Homo sapiens: one gene and its partner. The protein of the gene in region 2 interacts with the protein of the main gene of each other region in a biochemical or structural test. Each region holds a gene or a part of one and is shown on either strand. Other genes may lie near its edges.

Region 1 (7,024 bases), on a different chromosome or scaffold from region 2:
ATGTTATTTACAATTTCACGCACATCAAAGTTGGGGATTTTGCAGGACCACCCAGTACCGATTCCTTCAGCACCATTTATCAGCACCATGGGAATAATAGGAATGTACCATTCAGGCTCAACACGCTGGTTGTCATCATATAAAAACTTCAACGTGTGATCATCTTTTGGTGGAAATAACAATCGAGCCAAAGAGCTAAAGAAAAGAAACAAAGAATGTTATTTTACAAAAATACTGAATTTCACACTTAACTTTTATGGAAAGGACATGTATTATACATGAAAATTATCTTGGTTTTACTTGCTGACTAATATACATTTAACAATATTTATTGAGCACTTGCTATGTGTCACGCACATGGACATAAAGTCTCAATCCTCAAGGAGCTCACAGTCCAGTAGAAGTTTGCAATTAACACATATTTTGTTAGGTGGTGGGATAAACAAGAGAAGAAAAAGTGGGAAAGTGACTGAAGAGGTGCTAAGGAAAGTTAAGCCGTTTCTGATAGGAAAACATTTGAGCAGAGAAAAGACACTGAGGGCGCCAGGTGCAGTAACTCGCGCCTGTAATCCCAGCACTTTGGGAGGCTGAGGGAGGCAGATCACCTGAGGTCAGGAGTTCAAGACCAACCTGGCCAACATGGTGAAACCTCATCTCTACTAAAAATATAAAATTAGCTGAGCATGGTGGCGTGTACCTGTAATCCCAGCAACACGGGAGGCTGAGGCAGGAGAATCACTTGAACCCAGGAGGCAGAGGTTGCAATGAGCCGAAATTGCGCCACTGCACTCCAGCCTGGGCAAAAAGAGCAAAACTCCATCTCAAAAGAAAAAAAAACAACAAAAAACAAACTGAGGGACTGAACCATGTGGATATCTAGAGAAAGAGTGTTGCAGGCAAAGGAACCAGTAAGTAAAAGGCCCTGAAGAGGAAATGTGCTCGGTATATTTGAGTATAGGCCAAGGACAGTGTGGCTGGAGAGGAGATGGTATGAGAAGGAATCAAAAGACATGGAAGGTGGGGACACGGATCACATAATGTCTGGTTAGCTAAAATAGGTCTTTAGATTTTACTCTGAGCAGTTGAAGGTTCTGAATCAGAGTGACTTATTTTTTAAAAAATAATTGGCTGCTTTAAGAAAAGATGATATGTTACAATAGTTTAGATGAGATGGGGGTGGCTTAGTATTTTTCCAATGCAGATCCTATAGGATTGGCTGAGGAACTGGATGTTAAGTATCAAGCAAAGGAGTCAAGGGTGACAAGGTTTTTAGCCTGAGCAATTAGAAGGATGGCATGGCATTCCATTTACTGAGACAGGAAAACTAAGGATTTGGTTTTAGACTTATGTTTGAGATACTTAACTAGATATCCAAGTGGGAAATGTTAAGAGGGCAGTCAGACATAAAAGTTGGGAGTTCAGGGGAGAGACCAAGACTGGAGATTTAAAGGTATAGAACGGATGAATGGGAGATCATTTGGGAATTGAGTGTAGGCATTGGAAAGAGATCTGATGAAGGAGCCCTGGAATGGGCCAGTATTTAGAGGTTGGGAAGGTGAGAAGGACCCAGCAGAGAAAGCTAATAAGGTAGAAGAGAACCAGAAGAGTCTACAGTCATAGAGGCCAAATAAAGAGTTTCAAGAAGGATGGAGCAATTAGTAACTGTTTGAATGCCACTGAAAGGGTGACTGGGATGACAGCTGAAAATTGACCATTCATAATATACTTTCCATAGGCTTGTAAAGGAGTAAAATTTCAATTGTGATATTTAGGAAGAATCAAAGTCTCCTTTACTCAGTCCCAAGCTCTACATCAGGATTTCTCAACCTTAGCATAATTGACATGTTGCACTGGATAATTGTTATGGGGGGGCTTTCCTGTATAAGCCTCACCCCTGGCCTCTGCCACTAGATGCCAGTATCTTCTGATTAACTGAGTTTTTGTATTTTTGGTGAACTAAATCTCACATTGTTTCAAAACTGGAAATGGCAAGTCACTAGAAAGTGAAAGCATACCTACCTGAGCATTGTAAAGATGTATCGTGGACTAGCAGAATCCTTGCCACCATGTAGCCTGGTACCAAACTGACCAATGGGCTGCAAGAGGTTTAGATTATTGCTACCCACAAAATTCTGAGCCAAATTGATAATGGTCATCATTAGTGACATCTGTGGGGAAAAAAAGATTCATTAAGCTGAGGCTTTTACTAATACAAATACATTATGACTTAACCTCACTATAATCCTGTAACATTTTGTGAGGTCTAGTTGTTTAGTGACTTTCCTCAGATTAATAGATGGCAGAAATAGTACTTGAACCTACAACTTCTGGCTCCAAGTTTAGGGCTGCCGTCCAACAATTTCTATTAAATCCCACTCAACTTTGAAGGCATAGTTCTTCTCCTTATCCTCAGCAAAATGAAATATTTCCTCCTTTGTGTTACAATGCTGTGTTCATTTCTATTCTAGCATGTATCACTTTATTCTATAGCTGTGTGTGTATTGGCCCTCTGGCTAAATTGTTATTATATCTTGGGGATAAGGAACATATTTTTATTTATTTTTGTATACCTGGTACATGGTAGGCATTCAACAAATGTTCGTTGGGTGAAAATTTATTGTATCCCTACTATATTTTGATTGAAAGCAACAAGACAACCATTATATTTAAAATTCTAGAAACCTGTAGGCAATCTAGTTCTTTAAAACTGTTTTACATAATTAATGCAAAAAGTAATCACAAAACATTGGTGTAAAGTCAAACAATTCAGACACATATAAAAAGTGAAAGTTGCCCTTTCCAGTTCTCAGGGGTAACTAAAGTGAACAATTTGGAACATATCCTTGTAGACATTTTTAGTTATTGTTCTGTCTCTTTTTTTCCTCACCTGAGAATAGACCCTGGATATTCCTCAGTGTCAGTGCACACAGTTTTACTGAAGTTACAGCACTGATTCCATGCATACATGTGTCACAATTTATTATAACAATTTTCAAATCAGTGGAGGTCTAAATTTTGACATCACAAAGTTATAATAAACATACTAAGCATTTTTTAATGTAGACCTTTGCAGACTTATGAATATCCCTGCAGGAATATTACTTTCAGAAATCAAAGGGCAAGCAGTTTTATTCTTTCACAGGTTTTACCAACTTGTTCTTTACTATGAATATATGAGCTTATACTTTCACCAAATCTGTTTTGAGAATGACTCTGCAGGGATTTCTGATATAATGCTTTCTGGAAACATGGATTGTGTGTTTACCTCACCATGATGATAAGAAGACATTTCAGCCACTGATCCAGCTAATTGGGCAACCTTTACTTCTCGCTTGTCATTCCGTTTGAAGCAAGTAAACAAAACCTTTCTCTGACCTGGTTTCAAACCTTTAAAATGAAATAAGAGCAAACGTAAGTATCCTCAATTTAACCAATTTTGGAATTTGATTTCCATCTTACAATGAAAACAGACTAACAAATTGGAACTCACCATCCACCATAGAAGGGATAGATCTCTCGTTATCAGAATTTGAGAACAAGATAAGTTCCTTGTTGATGAAGTCATTATATGTCAGATATGTGGTAGTTTGTCCATACAAGTAATCCTGAAGGACCAAATAGTATTACATGAGTCTACCGGTCTAAACAATGCTCAACACAAAAATCAAACAGAAACCTTTCAGAACTAAGAATTATTTCTGTAATTCTTAAGTCTTTAAAAAATATTGAATAATACAGAAATATTTTATATGTTTTAAAGATAAAGCAAATTTAACTGCTGCACAACTCTATCATATCAAATTTTTTACTAAAATAACTATTCAGTAAGTTTAATTTGCTATAGTATCAATACCAAAAGGTCAGTCTAACAATCCATTTTGTGGCATATATTTAAAACTTTTACCTCAGGAAGCCCAAGTAACTTTCGTTGTCTTCTATCCTCCATGAAATTAGTTAACCATTCCTTTCGATCATCTATCTGTTTTTTGCTAAAGGCCTATAAATTAAAGGATGAAAAGATGTCACTGGTACTAATAGGCTAATAGGTTCCAAAATATCCTTCTACAAAGAACGAACAACAGAAAAACAAAAATACTGTTTTCCTTTTTTTTTTTTTTTGAGACGGGAGTTACTGTTCTCTTGCCCAGCCTGGAGTGCAATGGTGTCATCTTGGCTCACTGCAACCTCTGCGTCCTAGGTTCAAGCGATTCTCCTGCCTCAGCCTCCTGAGCCCCTGGGATTAAAGGCGCCCGCCACCACGCCCAGCTAATTTTTGTATTTTTTTTTTTTTGAAATGGAGTTTCACTCTTGTGGAATGTGATGGCACGATTTCGGCTCCCACAACCTCCACTTCCCAAGTTCAAGTGATTCTCCTGCCTCAGCCTCCCGTGTAGCTGGGATTACAGGCACGTGCCACCACACCCAGCTAATATTTTGTATTTTTAGTAGAGATGGGGTTTCACCATGTTGGTCAGGCTGGTCTTGAACTCCCGAGCTCAGGTGATCCACCCGCCTCGGCCTCCCAAAGTGCTATGATTACTGGTGTGAGCCACTGCGCCCGACCTTTTTTGTTTTTTTTTTTTTTTGAGACAGAGTCTCGCTCTGTCGCCCAGGCTGGAGTGCAGTGGCACCATCTCAGCTCACTGCAAGCTCCGCCTCCTGGGTTCACGCCATTCTCCTGCCTCAGCCTCCGGAGTAGCTGGGATTACAGGCGCGTGTCACCAAGCCCGGCTAATTTTTTATTTTTTATTTTTTTTTATTTTTAGTAGAGACGGGGTTTCACCGTGTTAGCCAGGATGGTCTCCATCTCATGACGTTGTGATCTGCCCGACTTAGCCTTCCAAAGTACTGGCATTACAGGCGTGAGCCACCACGCCTGGCCTTTTTCCTTTTTTTTTGAGATGGAGTCTCACTCTGTTGCCCAGGCTGGAGAGCAGTGGCCTGATCTCGGCTCACTGCAACCTCTGCCTCTCGGGTTCAAGCGATTCTCCTGCCTCAGCTTCCCAAGTAGCTGGGACTATAGCTGCGTGCCACCACGGCCGGCTAATTTTTTGTATTTTTAGCAGAGATGGGGTTTCACCTTGTTAGCCAGGATGGTCTTGATCTCCTGACCTTGTGATCTGCTCGCCTCTGCCTCCCAAAGTGCTGGGATTACAGGCGTGAGCCACTACGCTCGGCCAATTTTCGTATTTTTAGTAGAGAGGGGGTTTCACCATGTTGGACAGGTTGGTCTCCAACTCTTGATCTCAGGTGATCCACCTGCCTTGGCCTCCCAAAGTCCTAGAATTATAGGCATGAGCCACCAAGCCCAGCCAAAAATCAAAATTTTCTAAAATATCTGATTCCTTCTCTGGGATATGCTTACTGGAAACATTCTATTCTATAAAACATTCTTTTTTTTTTGATACGGAGTCTTATACAAAAATGTAAATGTTTCAACTGGCTAAAGTAGTGATTTCTAAAATTAGAATGTATATAAAATACAACTCAAACCTACCAGGCTGATAGCAGCATCATCTTCAGGACCAGAATATTTGAACTGGATACGATGTCTTTTCATATCTGCAAAGTATTCTTTAGCTTCCTTTGATGTGCTGGTGCCCAAACCTATAAAACCAAAAATACCAAGTTCCTTCATATAGTCTTGTACAGGGTGTATAATAAAATGAGAAGTTCTATATGGGTTTCATTACAAACCTTTGTAATATTTGACTTTCCATTTTTTATGATTTGGAGTAGAACTCTTCCACTCTTCAAATTCAGGAAGGCTGTAAAATGCCATTTCTTGCTTGTTTTTAGATACCTGTGATAAAAAACAATGACTGTGGCTTTGTACACTGTGGGGTCCCCTGTATACCACTACATGTGACGGGGCTTATATGTATATCCAGGTTTGAGGAGTAGGGTCTTAAAATATCCATGATGGTACTTAGAAATTAGCGTACCTTTACAATGGGAGTGATAAATTCCTCCAGAAAACGATGTCGCAGAAGAGAGGGCCAGTTGTGATGGATAAAATTAATCAGCAAGCCTTTGATGTGGGAACCATCTTGGTCCTAGAAAGATTTGAAAGCCAAAGTTCAAAAGAACTGTTAGGCTGGGCGTGGTAGCTAACATCTGTAATCCCAGAACTTTGGGAGGCCGAGGCAGGCGGATCGCCTGAGGTCAGGCGTTCGAGACCAGCCTGGCCAACATGGTGAAACCCTGTCTCCACTAAAAATACAAAAATTAGTTGGGTGTGGTGGCATCCGCCTGCAATCCCAGCTACTCGGGAGGCTGAGGCAGGAGAATCGCTTGAACCCATGAGGCGGAGGTTGCAGTGAGCCAAGATTGCACCATTGCACTCCAGCCTGGGCGACAAGGGCGAAACTCCATCTCAAACAAACAAAGAATTGTTTAGAAATAAAAAAATATTATGACTGACCTACTGGCAATTTGTCAAATTTTCTATGGGAATCAAAAAAGGTCTGTTCAAATCCAGACTCACTTAACCTGTATTTGCAACATACATATGATATAAGCATATCTGATTAGATGTTGATTAGAGATGATGAATAAAGCTCCTATTTAACTAATTTATTTTCATGGCAAAAAACAATGAAATTAAATTAAGACATGCTTAATTTAGTTGAACAATCTAAAAATTTAATAACAAATCTGACCTGATCTGTCATAATCATTATCTTCCCATAACGAAGCGTCTTCAATGAATCTTCATCTTCATAGTTTTTCTTGTACTGAAGACCCACAATCTTGATGATATTGTTAATCTCAGCATTTTCCATGATCTGAAATGGACATATACCAAAAAAAGCATCGTTTATAAATTTGAAAAGAACAAAGAAATTTAACAGTATATGTTGCTTGGATTTTCTTGAGCTCCAGTATTTTGAGCTATTAGCTTATAATTTACTACATCAGAAAGGTCTGTTAAAATAGGCTACAATGTACCTAATTTCTCAAAATAAGCACAAATTGTCTAAAATATATTTTAAAATGCCTAATGAGGGAATTAAATATAAGC
Region 2 (7,192 bases):
TAGGAGACCAAGGCAGGAGGACAGCTTGAGCCCAGGAGTGTGAGACTATCCTGGGAAACATGGCGAAACCCTATCTCTACAAAAAATACAAAACAATTAGCCAGACGTGGTAATGCATGCCTGTGGTCCCAGATACTTGGGAGGCTGAGGCAACGGGATCACTTGAAACACGGAGGTCGAGGCTACAGTGAGCAAGGTTTGTGCCACTGCACTCCAGCCTGGGCAACAAAGTTTCAAAATATAAATAAAACAAAAATATTTTGGCCAGGCACAGTGGCTCATGCCTGTAATCCCAGCACTTTGGGAAGCCAAAGTAGGAGGACTTCTTGAGCCCAGGAGTTTGAGGCCAGCCTGTGCAACAGAGGGAGACCCCATCTCAATGTTTTCATAAAAGAAAAGAAAAAAAATTTTTTTTAAGTCTAACAAGGAGGAGGACTAGCGGTCTCAGCGAAGAGAGGAGGATAAAGCGCCAGAGAAAGGAAGGACAGAGAGAGAGAGAGACAGAGACAGACAGAGAGAGCCAGAGACAGAGACAGAGGAGAGAGACAGAGACTGCGAGATGCAGGGAGAGACAGAGAGAGAGCAACGTGCTCTGCTGTCTTTCAACTATGCCCTGAAATGGGAAAGAAAGATAACATCCAAAGGTGAGGCATACCCTGAGCATACCCCTGCCCAGCCCCCACCTCCTGCAGGGGCCACCCCAGGGGGCATCACAGTGATACATTTTCCAGCTGCCTCCTCTAAAAGCACAAGGCCCAGTGGAGAAAGGGGGTTTGCAACCTTGGAGCACACACCAGAGGCGTCACCCCTCAATGCTGACAGTGGAGCCCCCAACACTGTAGCCGGGGAGGTGGCCACATGGATGTTACTCTTCGACTTCTCTCTTTTTGCCCCTTAGGCCAAGGAGCCACAGCTCCATCCCTCAGAGCACCCATGTCCTTCCTGGGCTGCCAGAAGCATCTCCTGGAGCCTGACCCCATTTGCACAACACTGGCCGACCCTCCCAGGTAAAGGCACATGATGGCATCTCCTGCCCCAGTGGCCAAAAGCTCTCTTTTACGGGAGTCAAACAAGCGCAGACCTTGGCATTCGGCTGGTTCTGAAAGGCAGGACTTTGTGTCCTGAGGCTTCAATACAGATGCCCCGAAAGAACCACCTCTCAAAGCAATTGCCCCCAAACTTGAGCCCTGAGGACAGCATCTTAGCAAACACCAACCGAGAACAATGTGAGAGCATCCCACGAACCACCACCTCGTCCTTCCAGAAGGGTGCTCAGCCCAGCAGAACAGAACAGCATCTCTTCCTGGCTCCACCTTCCCCATGAAACTGTGCAGGCCCCAACCCCAAAGCCCTCCCTCTGCTCTTGGGAATTGCTAGGACACCTCAAATGAACGCAAATAAAATTAAAAGATTTTTTGAAGAAAAAGACGACCAATTGAACAGCTGGGTTCATGAACGAGAGGACTGAGGACTCTGCCACCTAAGCGACGCTGACCAGTTCTGCCTCCAGAGGGCTTCCTCCTTGAGACCCGAGAGTTCACAGTAAGGGGGACTCTTCCCCACCCTGATGGGCACCTGGAGCTAAGCCCCCAGGACCTCGGAGAGTGCCAGCTTCCCGCCCACCTCCAAAGTCCTTGCCACTCACAGCCCTGCCAGGCCTGGCCCAAGGTGAGCAGCACCAGCTCGGCGTTGTCGGGAACACTGGGGAAGTAATCTTCCGTCAGCTCCGTGCCATCCTCGTACAGGCACAGCCGGGAACCGCGCTCAGGGAGCTGCAGGGACGGGAGAAGCAACAGGAGGAGGAAGGGTCTCAAGACGAGGGCTTTGCATCTGCAGGCCTCACAAACGACCGGAATGAGCTGTGCTTAAAGAAGCAGGCTCAGGCTGCCGCCTGTATGCCACAGTCGCTCCAACGCCCAGGCAAGGATGAGGGAGCGGGAGCAAGGGCGCCTGACTGCGGGCCGTTCTAAAATACGAAGAGTCAGGAAAAACATACATCAGGGGGTGACTGCTGGCTCTGCAGGATTCACCCTTTTTAAATGAGCTCCTGAGGGCGCTTCAAATAGAGCCTGTCTTTGACAGCGCCGCCTCCCTGCTGCCAGGAGCTGAACACCACCATCCCCAGCACACAGCCGCCAGAGCGGTGCTGGCACACGAAGGAGAACGGTTGGTTGCCTCTGTGCACAAGTGTGACCGGCACGTGGCACTGTTAATTTGTTGGAGTCCGGTTCCCTGTTACTCTGCACTGGTCAGTTTTAGGCATTTTATGGCTACTCCCACCCCACCCGCACCGACCCCGGCAATGCACACCTGGTAACCCTAGTACTGGTCTAAAAAGAAAACCAACCTAGAATAAGGTGACGATTGCAATCCCCAGCTGCGAGGGCTGGAAGGGGCCTGCAGAGCCCACCTAGCCAAGCCTTTCATGTTACTCAAGGGGAAGCTGAGGCCGGACAGGCAGAGCAGCCGTGACCCCGCGTGCCAGTACCTGGCACTCTACCCGGGTCTCCTAGCTCTGATGCAGGGCTGTCCTGCCCGAGAGGTGGGAAGAGGGAAGGGGTGATCCAGGTCGTCCCCCAACCCCCCTGCGTTCTGAAGCCACGCTCAGGAACCCCAGGCTGCGGGGGCCCGGGGTCCTAGCGGCTGAGGCGAACGAAAACTACCCGCCCCGGGCGCCGCCTGCACCCTCCGTTTTGGAAGAGGAAAAGCGGCACCTCCTATTCTCCCCACACGCCTCCCCGACGGGCCGTCCCCGCCTAGCCCAGCGGGCACCTGGAAGCGGAGACAGCCCTTGCGCAGCACCTCCTGGCAGCTCCGGCCAGCCACGCCGAACTTCCTCGGGCTGCGCAGGGCCCGCAGCTTCACGCTCTTGGGCTTCTGGAGCATTGCAGATGTCCTCAAGCCCTCTGGGTCCCACAGGCGGTGGCACCTGCTGCCCAGCTGCTCAGATCCGTCCTCGCCCTGGCCGCAGGGGTCTGCACCTGGTGAGCTCTGCAAGCTGGCACAGGCCGGGTGCCGATCCCGGAAACTACATTACCCAGAAGGCCTGGGAAAAGTGAGGCCCGACGCGGTCTTGTGCGCAGGCGTCGCCCCACGGACACCACATTACCTTACTCAGAAGGCTCAGGAAAGCAAAGGCGCGACGCCACCTGGTGTGCCCAGGTGCCGTGGCCCCGGAAACTACACAACCCTGAGGGCCAGAGTAGCGGAGCCCTCCCCTTGTGCGCAGGCGCGGCCTGGGGTGGGGCGGGGTCGCGCACGCGCAGAGGCCCTGGCCCAGGGCTGGGCTTGGTTGTCATGAGAGTGGAGGCTGCGGCCGGGGCTATGGGCAGAGGTGGCCGGGTCTGCTTCTTCCCTGTCACTGCCGCAGCAGCTTGGGGTGCAAGGCGGCCTGGGGCGGCGGAAGGGGCGCCCCCCGAGTTCCGTCTGAGGAAGCGGCGGCTGCCGAGGAAGTCCACGAGAGCCGGGTCCCGCACGCCCCTGGGGTCCGGGTGCTGAGGCGCCGCCTGGCCGCCTCCCCGGGCCGCGGCACCGCTCCGACCCAGCCGCCCTCTCCACCGGGGCCGCGGCAGCGCCAGTCGGGGCCCTTCCCTCTAAGCAGGTACCTTCCGGGCCGCTGCGGCGCCGGCCCAGGGCCGGAGTGGGGAGCGGGGCGCGGGGCGCGGGGCGCGGGCGCCGCGGGGGCGCGGTCCCCACCTGGGAGCTGGGTACGAAGCCTGGGTGCGCGGTGCAAGCGCGGACGGTGTGGAGTTAGATGCCGGCCTTGCTGTCGCCGAAGAGCCGGCGCGGCCCCGTCGTGCCGTATGCCGGGGAGCTCAGCACGGGTGCTGGGACCGCCTGCCCCGGCCGGGACGGCCCATTTAGCGTGGAATATTGTTTTCAGATCCGGCTTTTCCTCTTCTGGATGCGTAGCACATAGGGGGCCAGTTTCAGATGTGTTCTGCTGAGCAAAAGTTTGAGGAAAATTGCTCTGTCCCTATAGAGATTAAAGTCTGATGGTTGGTTGTTTTTTGTTTTGGAGTTTGTTTTGTTTTGTTTGCACTTAAGTTCAGATTTCTCTGAAGCCCTTTCAGTCGCTAAGATGACTTGATCAGAAACCCATAAGCCTTTGAGACGGTCTCGCTCTGTCGCCCAGGCTGGAGTGCAATGGCACGATCTCAGCTCACTGCAGCCTCCGCCTCCCGGGTTCAAGCGATTCTCCTGCCTCAGCCTCCCGAGTAGCCCGACTAATTTTTTTATTTTTAGTAGAGACGGGGTTTCACCATGTTGGCCAGGCTGGTCTCGAACTCCTGACCTCAAGTAATACGCCCTCCTCGGCCTCCCGAAGTGCTGGGATTACAGGCATGAGCCACCGCGCGCAGTCACACTTAAAAGTCTTCTTAAAAAGAAAATCAGAGACAAGTTTTGTTTCCTAGTCTTGTAACAAAATGGAAGTTGCTACACTGAGTTTCCGTTTAATTTATAGTTAATTGCCTTTTACCATGCCAGCACTAGGAAAAGTGTAGTGAGGGATGAGACCGCCATGGAGTCATCGCTGCCTGGGGAGAGATGTACTCTGGCATTTGTCGGGATGTCGATGGCTGCCCCTGGGACAACAGGGATCCCTCATGCCTCTGGTGAGGAAGACCAGCCAATAACTGGATGTTCAACAGAGCTTTGCTTCTTCCCAAATTGTTAATGGTGATTTTTATAGAGCCTAAAAGTGGCATCCTTCAGTGACATTCCAAGTATCTTATGTAACACTTGAAGGTTTACACAGAGGGGACCCTAGGGTACAACTGGAAGGTCTTTGGGAGGGGGTAGACTAAAAAAGGAATCCTTTTCAAATACCAGACTGAGGTAATAGCATTGCCTCCACAGTCCCTGTGCATTTCTCTTAGCTGGTTCTTAAATGCCAGTACTTTGTTTTAGATTTGTTGGGGGCAGTATAGCATACTGGAAACACCCTTCTGTTTGACTGAAAAGGTCCTATATTTATGTCTTCGAGCCGTAACAGAGAGTGTTGGTTAGGTTCAGAGACTAGCCAGGCTCGGCGGCTCACGCCTGTAATCCCAACACTTTGGGACACTAAGGTGGGAGGAGTTCAAGACCAGCCTAGACAACACAGTGAAACCCCATCCCTACAAAAAAAAAAAAAAAAAGTAGCTGTGCATGGTGGCATGTGCCTGTAGTCCTAGCTGCTCAGGAGGCTGAGACAAGAGGATCATTTGAGCCCGAGAGTTCATGGTTACAGTGAGCTATGATCACGCCACTGCAGCAGTACAGCCTGGGCAACAGAGCGAGAACCTGTATTAAAAAAAAAAAAAAAAAAAAAATCGGGGCTGGGCTTATTGGCCACGCCTGTAATCCCAACACTTTGGGAGGCTGAGGCGGGTGGATCACCTAAGGTCAGGAGTTCGAGACCAGCCTGGCCAACATGGTGAAACCCCATCTCTACTAAAAATACAAAAATTAGCTGGGTGTGGTGGTGCGCACCTGTAATACTAGCTACTTGGGAGGCTGAGGCGGGAGAATCACTTGAACCCAGGAGGCAGAGGTCGCAGTGAGCCGCGATCACGCCACTGCACTCCAGCCTGGGTGACAGAGTGAGACCCTCTCTCAAAAAAAAAAAAAAAAAAATTTGGAGACTGGAACCCAACAGCCTGGGCACAAGAGGTATTTTCAAGGTGGAATAGGGAGTGACAAGCCCTGCCCTGAAAGATGATGAAAGGGGCCTGGCATGGTGGCTTATGCCTGTAATCCCAGCACTTTGGGAGGCCAAGGCGGGCAGATTGGCCAGGAGTTCGAGACCAGCCTGGCCAACATGGCAAAACCCCGTCTCTACTAAAATACCAAAAAAAAAAAAAAAAAAAAATTAGCCAGGCATGGTGGTGCATGCCTGTAATCCCAGCTACTTGAGAGGCTGAACCACAAGAATCACATGAACCAGGGAGACAGAGGTTACAATGAGCCCAGATCACGCCACTGCACTCCAGCCTGGGTGATAGATTGAGACTCTTGTCTCAAAAAAGGAAAAAAAGCTGATGAAAGGATTGGAGGGCTTCAGAGCTGAAGGGTATTAACTTTGAGCTTTGATTGTTTGGCTGGACTTCAGAATTCAGGACAAGAAGTGAGGGTCAGGGGAGAGTTGGCGCATTGATCCCTAGATGGGGAGCCCACCAAGAGCTCTGGAGTTAGGACATGGATGGAGATGACTGGAGCTGGGCCTGAGGCACGTTCACACAATAGGAACTTAGGACTTGTCTGAGGGAGGCGCTTCAGGTGGGGACACCAGGTGGTTGCTGTCTAGAAAAGACAGTGGGATCAGAAGGAAGGGCAGGCCTGATAAGACCTGGCACACTGTTGGATGGGGAGTGGGTGAAGAGAGATGCTGTGGCCAAGGGAAAAGTACCTCTAGGCTCAGAGCCCATGCGACCCAGAAGTGCCAGGTCACGAAGGAGTGGGAGCCATGGGCTGTGCGTTTCTGGCATAGGTTGCCCAGAGTGCAGGTGGGGCCGTGCAGCTAACAGTGGGTTAAATCACACTCATCCTTTCAAAATTCTTTTTTTGTTTGGTTTTTTAGAAACGGGGTCTCACTCTCTTACCCAGGCTGGTCTCGAACTCCTGGGCTCAAGTGATCCTTCCACCTCGGTCTCCCAAAGTGCTGAGATTATAGGCAGGAACCACCACACCCAGCCTCATCCTGTTCTGGGGGGCTTTTTAAAAATTATTTTCTGAGTTGGTTTAGTTTTGTTTTTGTTTAATATACAGTAACATCTTGCAGTGAACTTTGTGCAAAAAATAACTAGAATCTCGATGGTTTATCATTCTATTTTAGTGCTTTTGTTCATACATTCCAAGAAACATTAGCAATAATGCCAGCCAATAATTAATATATTGAAGTGGTCCTCTTCGAATTCTCAATGAAAGTAAAAGAAAGATCTAGATCATGCATCAAGCATGTCAAAATACGTACAGTTTTATGTGGGGGTATGTTTATATGTTACCTCCTATTGGGAATTTCAATTAATAGTATATCTTATCCCAGAGAACTTTCTGATGGAGTCTTCTTTATCCTGGTTTAGTGAGGAGCCTTTTTTTTTTTCCCCCGATGATTTAGACCTAACCCAAATTGGCTTACTTAGGAGGAATCTGACTGGCTTAGTAACTGAAAAGTAACCCAGAGTCCCTGAGCAAATTGGGCTCAATGTCC

What was found. The genes of interacting proteins can lie anywhere in the genome.
Region 1: the proteins of DFFB (region 2) and TOP2A form a complex in vitro, tested with the Homo sapiens proteins (one study listed by BioGRID).

Annotation. Positions count from the first base shown.
Region 1 is NC_000017.11:40,400,887-40,407,910, forward strand, and holds part of TOP2A (DNA topoisomerase 2-alpha), read right to left. Parts: intron 6,789-7,024; coding exon 6,663-6,788; intron 6,057-6,662; coding exon 5,946-6,056; intron 5,804-5,945; coding exon 5,698-5,803; intron 5,608-5,697; coding exon 5,498-5,607; intron 3,998-5,497; coding exon 3,905-3,997; intron 3,606-3,904; coding exon 3,491-3,605; intron 3,388-3,490; coding exon 3,266-3,387; intron 2,169-3,265; coding exon 2,020-2,168; intron 196-2,019; coding exon 1-195. UniProt on the Homo sapiens protein: Key decatenating enzyme that alters DNA topology by binding to two double-stranded DNA molecules, generating a double-stranded break in one of the strands, passing the intact strand through the broken strand, and religating the broken strand.
Region 2 is NC_000001.11:3,853,298-3,860,489, reverse strand, and holds the start of DFFB (DNA fragmentation factor subunit beta), read right to left. Parts: upstream 3,015-7,192; 5' UTR 2,887-3,014; coding exon 2,773-2,886; intron 1,773-2,772; coding exon 1,646-1,772; coding exon of another isoform or gene 1,624-1,645; intron 71-1,623; exon of another isoform or gene 1-70. Other genes in the region: CEP104 (centrosomal protein of 104 kDa), read left to right, coding at 4,523-4,616. UniProt on the Homo sapiens protein: Nuclease that induces DNA fragmentation and chromatin condensation during apoptosis. Degrades naked DNA and induces apoptotic morphology.